Linked DNA regions of Homo sapiens: regions 2 and 3 are each linked to region 1. Evidence: fine-mapped QTL for protein levels in blood plasma. A gene starts in region 1. Each other region holds a variant in brackets. All regions are shown on one strand. Distances are between the middles of the regions.

Region 1 (2,768 bases):
AAAATGCCAAAAGCAATGGCAACAGAAGCCAAAATTGACAAATGGGATCTAATTAAACTAAAGAGCTTTTGCACAGCAAAAGAAACTATCATCAGAGTGAACAAGCAGCCTACAGAATGGGAGAAAATATTTGCAAACTATGCATCTGACAAAGGTCTCATATCCAGAATCCATAAGGAACTTAAACAAATTTACAGGAAAAAGACAAACTACCCCATCAAAAAGTGGGCAAAGGATATGAACAGACACTTCTCAAAAGAAGACATTTATGTAGCCAACAAACCTATGAAGAAAAGCTCACCATCACTGATCATCAGAGAAATGCAAATCAAAACCACAATGAGATACTATCTCGAGCCAGTTAGAATGGCAATTATTGAGAAGTCAGGAAACAACAGATGCTAGAGAGGATGTGGAGAAATAGGAACGCTTTTACACTGTCCGTGGGAATGTAATTAGTTCAACCATTGTGGAAGACAGTATGGAGATTCCTCAAGGATCTAGAACCAGAAATACCATTTGACCCAGCAGTCCCATTACTGGGTATATACCCAAAGGAGTATAAATCATTCTGCTATAAAGACACATACACACATATGTTTATCGCAGCACTGTTTACAATAGCAAAGACATGGAACCCACTCAAATGCCCATCAATGATAGACTGGATAAAGAAAATGTGGTACATATACACCATGGAATACTATGCAGCCATAATAAGGAACAAGATCATGTCTTTTGCATGGACATGTATGAAGCTAGAAGCCGTCATCCTCAGCAAACTACCACAGGAACAGAAAACCAGACACCACATGTTCTCACTCATAAGTGGGAGTTGAACATTGAGAACACATGGACACAAAGGGGAAACAACACACATCAGGGCCTGTTGGGAGGTTGGGGGTGAGGGGAGAGAACTTAGAGGATGGGTCAATAGGTACAGCAAAAGAAAAAAGAAAAACAAATTGACAGAAAAAATGGTAACAAAAATAAAAATAGGATAGTTTCCTTTTGGCTTACCTGAAGTGGCTATTTTAGCTATTAGTTCAAATATTTGTAAATTTTAAAATCTATCAAATTTTCTAGTGACAGCATGTGGAAGAGAAAGTTATTGAAAAGTCAGTTAGCTAATTTTTCAGACTGCAAATCACATATGTAGAATTATGGTTGTCTAGAAGTATGTTGTTTATGTTTATCATCAGTATATTTTTATAAGACAACTCATACATAATTAGAAGTAGTAACGGCTACATAAAATAGAGCATTTTCATTTAAAACAATTCTGATGGGGTAGCATGGAAGGAAGAAAATTTTGGTAGAATTTAGCTGGTTTCTAAGGAAGAGTAGAAGAGAAAACTGCCTCAGAAAAAATGAATAATGTGCCTGCAGTTTTAAACCTGAGTCTGAATACGTACATTTTGCTTAGAGCTGTGTGGAATCTGGGAAGCAAGTCTGTGTTTTCACTTTATGCACTGTTGGTTCTATTAATGAAAGCCACCAGGTGACTGGCAGTTTTCGGAGTCAAAGAAGCCTGTGTGTAGGATCTAGGGAGTCAGGTTTGAAAAAAAGATGTCAGCGACTTAAGACCCGTGTCACGTGACTCCCTCTACTTGCCAGCACTGAGGCTGTGGATCAAATTTCAACTCCAGGCAGTCCTTCCAGCCATGTGGGTTCAGCGGAAAGAGAAGCAAAACCACTCTTCCTAAAATGTTAGAAGCTGCTCTTCGCTTACCTTGGGGCCTTTGCATTGGGAGCTGTTTTTCACATCAAAGAATATGTGCTGAATGGAATTTTAGTATTTTGCTGTCGTTTTAATATTTTCGTCTGGTCTTCCTCAGTTCTTCCAGACGCTTTCTGAGAGAATGGGGGCAGGAGCTCTAGCCATCTGTGTAAGTATAGGCCTTCTTCTGTCTTCTGTGTTTACTGCCAGTTTTTAGGAGAGGGCCTTGCCTTCCTTGTTTTGATGAGATGTTTGTGTAACTTATTTTTCCTTCCCAGGAGGTGGGGAAAGATTTGTTACTTAAATTCCTATCTACTTAAATGGGTATTAGGCAGGATTTGGGATGGCATTCAGCATATTTGTGCACTTTAGTTTCCAAAAAAGGTGAAAGATGCATGCTGATTTATTCCGTTAAGTCAACTTGATTTAAAGTAGAGCACTTTCAAGCATTTTAGACTTTCTTGTCCCTGAATAGTTAAACATGAATGCTTCATTATAGCTATTAGAGAAATCTTGTGGCTAGCTTGAGGAGGAATTGAAGTAACCATTAATTTATTACTTTTGAGTATGTGTGTGACATTTTTCTGTTTTATATTTCTATTTTCGTTTAGTAATTCTGGAGTTTCTGTTTCAGCATGATTGCTGAAAGTGATGGTGGAGAAGCTCAGTTGATAAATGTTTGTGTATCCTTAAACTGTAGAAATGAATGGTTGTTATAACACAGTAGCATTAATAAATAACACTGAAATAAAATCCTTGGGAAAATGTGCATATTTCTGGAGTTTTAGAATTTTTAGAATTTATGAATTTCTAAATTATTCTGCTGGTGCTTGTACAAAACCTTTTGTAATAATCAAAAATTGTCAATTATATAATTTGCAGAATGCTGTAATTTAAATTTTGATTGTACTATATAGAAAATGCATATATCTGTATGAGAATTACACATATTTATGTTTCAAGTTGCTATTGTATTCCATAGGGACATTTTATTTTCTAGAATGTATTAAATGAGAAATATCTTCTTCCTTATTATCACCTTAACTGC
Region 2 (2,768 bases), 360 kb after region 1:
GGGCCTCTGCGGGAGCCCTCCTAGACCTCTGCGGCTTCTCCTCTAACATGGCCGACTCGGAAAACCAGGGGCCTGCGGAGCCTAGCCAGGCGGCGGCAGCGGCGGAGGCAGCGGCAGAGGAGGTAATGGCGGAAGGCGGTGCGCAGGGTGGAGACTGTGACAGCGCGGCTGGTGACCCTGACAGCGCGGCTGGTCAGATGGCTGAGGAGCCCCAGACCCCTGCAGAGAATGCCCCAAAGCCGAAAAATGACTTTATCGAGAGCCTGCCTAATTCGGTGAAATGCCGAGTCCTGGCCCTCAAAAAGCTGCAGAAGCGATGCGATAAGATAGAAGCCAAATTTGATAAGGAATTTCAGGCTCTGGAAAAAAAGTATAATGACATCTATAAGCCCCTACTCGCCAAGATCCAAGAGCTCACCGGCGAGATGGAGGGGTGTGCATGGACCTTGGAGGGGGAGGAGGAGGAGGAAGAGGAGTACGAGGATGACGAGGAGGAGGGGGAAGACGAGGAGGAGGAGGAGGCTGCGGCAGAGGCTGCCGCGGGGGCCAAACATGACGATGCCCACGCCGAGATGCCTGATGACGCCAAGAAGTAAGGGGGGCAGAGATGGATGAAGAGAAAGCCCACGAAGAAAAAAGCCTGGTTTTGTTTTTCCCAGAATATCGATGGACTTAAAAAGGCTCAGGTTTTTGACCAAAATACAATGTGAATTTATTCTGACATTCCTAAAATAGATTAAATTAAAGCAATTAGATCCTGGCCAGCTCGATTCAAATTTGACTTTCATTTTGAACATAATAAATATATCAAAAGGTGTTAAAGAAAACTGAATTAAACCCAAAATTATGTTTTCATGGTCTCTTCTCTGAGGATTGAGGTTTACAAAGGGTGTTAGCAGATGCGAAGTAAAGAACGTCACTTTGAAACCCATTCATCACACAGCATACGCTACACATGGAACACCCAAGCCATGACTGAACACGTTCTCAGTGCTTAATTCTTAAATTTCTTTACTCATGACATTTCGCAGTGCAGAGAAGGCAGAACCCAAGAAAAACGTCATCTTTGAGACTTTGCTTTTGTAACGCAGACATCAGCTTTACACTTCACAGGAGATTGATGGCATTGAGGAAGATTGCAATGGAGATCATGACACTACTGTTAATAAGGCCAGGAAAACTGCCATTTCAAGTTCTGAAAAATGTTTTGAGTATTTGAATTTAGAGAAACAACATGGTTCCAAGAAGGAGGGTGTAAAACCTGTAAAATACTGTCAACATATGTATTCATTAGTTACAATCTCATGTTTGTGTTTTCTTAGTACTGTCTATTTACAAACACGTAAAAAATACCCCAAATATGTTTAAGTATTAAATCACTTTACCTAGCGTTTTAGAAATATTAATTTACTTGAAGAGATGTAGAATGTAGCAAATTATGTAAAGCATGTGTATCCAGCGTTATGTACTTTGCGCCTTGTGACGTCTTTCTGTCATGTAGCTTTTAGGGT[G/T]TAGCTGTGAAAATCATCAGAACTCTTCACTGAAGCTAATGTTTGGAAAAAATATATACTTGAAGAACCAATCCAAGTGTGTGCCCCTACCCCCAGCTCAGAAGTAGAAAGGGTTTAAGTTTGCTTGTATTAGCTGTGCCTTCATTATTTTGCTATGTAAATGTGACATATTAATTATAAAATGGTGCATAATCAAATTTTACTGCTTGAGGACAGATGCATACAGTAAGGATTTTTAGGAAGAATATATTTAATGTAAAGACTCTTAGCTTCTGTGTGGGTTTTGAATTATGTGTGAGCCAGTGATCTATAAAGAAACATAAGCTTAAAGTTGTTTATCACTGTGGTGTTAATAAAACAGTATTTTCAAAAAATATATATAAAAGACTCGGTACTGTGACTGCCTGCATTCAAATCCCAGCTCTGCCTCCTATTAGTAATGTACCTTAGGCAACTCAGCTAATACTCTCAGTGGCCAGTTTCTCCTCATCTACAAAAGGGAATAGGAATAGTCCCTTCCTCATGGGTTACTATGAAGAGCAAATGGATTAATACATATAAATCCTATAGAATAGCATCCAAACCATGGTAAGTGCTGAATAATTCTTAGCTATTATTATTACATGAAAGATAAAGACAGTGATTGGAAATTCAATCCTCCTCTCCTGTTACAAAATGGGAGAAAGAGACATCACTACATCCCTCCCTATGTTTTTGATTCCTTATTATGAGAGAAGAATGTGGCCTTTAATTCAGAAATGCAGGAAATTAAATAAACTATCTTGTTTTGGTTTCCTCAATATAATATCAGGTTTTTATCATCTCCCAGAAAGGATAAAAAAGGCTATTTCAACTTTATGTTTGCTTCATTCTGAATGAAGCAGAAAGTTTTTTTTAAAAACTGGACTCCAGAAAAATTAAAAAATCAGATGCCATTTGCTTCCTTTTCCCTGAAGGGTTAAAATTACAAAGAAGCAAAATTATATTGCTTTATCCTAGGGAATGGAAGGCAGCACTGACCTGTTGCTAATCACAACAGATTGTTGAGTACAAACAACCTTAAGGTAAAGTTAATCTTCATTATGCTCAGGCCAACCAAAAGAGAAAATCAGAATAATACGTTACATACAAAGTTCTGATTATCTTAATCATATGATTATCTTAATAGAGAAAAAATCTAATAAAATTTAATATTGATTTCTTATATCCAGGAATGAGAGAGACTATCATTTTACTATTTTTCTGGTTCCAGTAAAA
Region 3 (2,768 bases), 46 kb after region 1:
TGTTTTCTTGGTATTCTGTCACAAGTCAATGCTACATTTCTTTTTTTTTTAATGTTGTTGTAGGCCTTTGAATTATATCCTGTGTAAACAGCAAGTGATTTCATAGTTGAATGTGCTTAAAATTTTTCAGATCAAAGTCCTCTCTTCCATGCTTTATAGGATGGAGTTCTGGAGCCCTAAGTATTTTTTCAGACATTTAGGCTAAACCAAACTGCCAGTGAGAACAGTCTGGATGTCTGTAAGCATCCCTGACCCTTAACATCTTGTAGATGAACAGTGGCCCTCCATGGGAGAAAACTGTTTAAATTCATTCATTTCTATAACAAATTATACACTTTGGATGTGTCTGATGTCTGAAGCTCTGAGATTCTATGGGTTTTAGTTAGCAAATCAGTATACCTGCATGACAGATTTTTATCAAAGACTTCTTTCTCTATTTTATTTCTTCCAGAACCTTTCACTTCTTTCAGAGGCCTCACAATACCTCTCAGAGGTTTAGACAATTTATATTTAAGAGACACACTCGAAGGGACCTTCAGTGATCATCCTTTCCTATTGCCATGTTAGGCTTCTCTCTGACTGCAGCAACTCATCTTCCTTAATCAAGGTTTATAGTATGATTATCTCAGCTTGGTGTATTCCATGCCTTTTGATCTTTTATCCTTATGTTGGTAGGGCAGTAGTATATGTACTTTTTATTTTTGTAATCTCATGTGTGTTTTGGAAATAGGTGTGAATTGTAAGCCATAAAAAGATTGCAGAAGAGGATTCATTTAATTTAGGATTAACTAGAAATATTTTTAATTGACTGTTTCCTGTGGAAAATTCTTCTCTAATATAAATGTAAGTAGTTCTAGATCATAGTTGAGTATTTTTATTGTTATTTGATGACTTGGAATTAGATCATCCATCAGTATTTTTTTTAGTAACTTCTAAATAGATACTGAGTAATACAAAGAAATGAAAAATTAAACATCTTGATTTTAAGGAGTGTGTGATTTAATTGAGGAAGTAGAAGATATGTTGTATATATTCTACAATAGTGCTTTAAATGAACAATAAAAACATCCAGTCAGTGGTAACTAACAAGGAGGGAAGAAAACCAGCCTGGATTATGGTGGTCAGAAAACACTTTGTGGGAAAAATAAGATTGGAGACAACATTAACTTGTATGGAGAGGAAAATCTTTTAAGTGAGTTAAGGACATGAGCAAAAACACGGTAAGACAGAGTTATCTGACAGAGCTATCTGTAGCTAGAAGAGATTAGCAAAAGATACCATTGAAAAAGTAGGTTGAGGTTAGGTGGTATAGGGTCTTGAATATTAGTGTTAAATTAATATTTATATATAAATAATAAAATGTTTAAGAAAGATCTCACATAATAGAAGCAGTATGTTAGGCAGTGCTGTGTAAGATGGTTAGATGGGAAGATGCTACATGCAGAGAGAACATCTAGAAGGCTAACAGAAATCTAGGTCATAGTCCTATAACCATCTGTATCAGATAAATAGTGGACAATGAAAATTTTTTAAATTGTTGTAAATATATACGTAACATAGCATTTACCATTTTAACCATTTTTAAGTACAATTCAGGGACATCAAGTATAATCTCAGTGTTGTGCAACCATCACCACTATCCAGTGCCAATACTTTCTTTGTCATCATTCCAAAAAGAAACTCATCATGGGATTT[T/CCCTT]AAAGGAAGGTTACCAGAGACAGACAGAAAACATGAAGAGAACATCGTAGCTGGTAATTATTAAGATAATGAGGATGGCCAGGCATGGTGGCTTACACCTGCAATCCCAGCATTTTGGGAGGCCGAGATGGGAGGATCACCTGAGGTCAGGAGTTTGAGGGCAGCCTGGCCAACATGAGGAAACCCTGTCTCTACTAAAAATACAAAAATTAGCCAGGCGTGGTGGCAGGTGCCTGTAATCCCAGCTACTCAGAAGGCTGAGGCAGGAAAATCGCTTGAGCCAGGAGGTGGAGGTTGCAGTGAACCGAGATCGCACCACTGCACTCCAGCCTGGGCAACAGAGCAAGACTCCATCTCAGAAAAAAAAAGAAAAGATAATGAGGGTAAGAAAAGTCAGAGGTTTTGAGATGACCTGAGAAACTGTGTTAGGAAGGGGTAGTCTGGTGGCCTGACCCTGGTGTCTGTACCTTTGATGGGGTCCACAGAACCACATGATGGCAGAGGGCCAGTTTATCAGATGGTTGTGAATACATACTAATAATGAGAAAGAAATTTGTGAGGTGAGTTGTAGTAGCACCAGGGAAAGATCCCTGCAAACTTAGTGTTTAGATAAGGCCAGAGGCAACTACTGTTCCTTTGTCTTCAGTTATTCAAATCTTTTCTTTTCTATCTGTACACAGGGTAGCACCTTTACATTTTAAAGTGCTTCAGCTCCTCAGACCTGATCTTTTGTCCTGAAAGGAAGAGACAGTCTTCAACTTTCTAGGAACTTTCTGTGGCTGCCTAATGCTCTTTCCCTACCTCCAGGCAAATTTGGGACTTAGCCCAAAGGCTTAGGTGCTGTCTGTTACACTTGGTAGTGTCAACCTTAAATGATGAAATTCAGAAAATATGATTAAGTTTAGAGTTTATTCGGTACAAAGCCTGGGGATAACCACTCGGGAAACACAGACTCCAAAGGAATGGGGACAGAGGTTCAAAGTAGAGAGGTTAAAGTTTTACTTATATAGGCAGAGGCAGAGTAGTTTAGCAGGGTTACAAATTTTTCCATACAAGGTCAGTACATACTGTAT

Which allele goes with the higher level. Positions count from the first base shown, and alleles are read on the strand shown. Strength reflects both the effect of a copy and how common the allele is.
For the plasma level of the protein whose gene starts at base 1,642 in region 1, allele G in region 2 goes with a lower level than allele T (moderate association).
In carriers of allele T in region 3, the plasma level of the protein whose gene starts at base 1,642 in region 1 tends to be higher than with CCCTT alone (moderate association).

Evidence for each region. A credible set is the group of variants that fine-mapping cannot tell apart. PIP is the chance, under the fine-mapping model, that this variant and not a neighbour inherited with it causes the effect. The UK Biobank Pharma Proteomics Project read protein levels with antibody pairs (Olink). The fine-mapping took linkage between variants from a reference panel, not from the people measured, so its PIPs are less certain.
Region 2: its variant is the best candidate, but not a certain one, in a credible set for the plasma level of the FAM13A protein (UK Biobank, PIP 0.61).
Region 3: its variant is the best candidate, but not a certain one, in a credible set for the plasma level of the FAM13A protein (UK Biobank, PIP 0.70).

Annotation. Positions count from the first base shown.
Region 1 is chr4:89,056,059-89,058,826 of GRCh38, reverse strand. It overlaps FAM13A (family with sequence similarity 13 member A), which reads left to right and starts at 1,642. Exons shown (of 24, transcript NM_014883.4): 1 at 1,642-1,889. The coding sequence starts at 1,863. RefSeq lists an enhancer at 1,779-2,341.
Region 2 is chr4:88,695,034-88,697,801 of GRCh38, reverse strand. The region is part of intron 23 of HERC3 (HECT and RLD domain containing E3 ubiquitin protein ligase 3); the gene reads right to left. NAP1L5 (nucleosome assembly protein 1 like 5) reads left to right here. Exons shown (of 1, transcript NM_153757.4): 1 at 1-1,889. The coding sequence starts at 48. The coding sequence ends at 596. Among named protein-coding and RNA genes, the nearest start is that of NAP1L5, 1.4 kb to the left of the region's middle. The variant G/T (reference allele first, on the strand shown) is at 1,512.
Region 3 is chr4:89,010,151-89,012,918 of GRCh38, reverse strand. All of the region lies in intron 3 of FAM13A (family with sequence similarity 13 member A), which reads left to right. Among named protein-coding and RNA genes, the nearest start is that of FAM13A, 46 kb to the left of the region's middle. The variant T/CCCTT (reference allele first, on the strand shown) is at 1,696.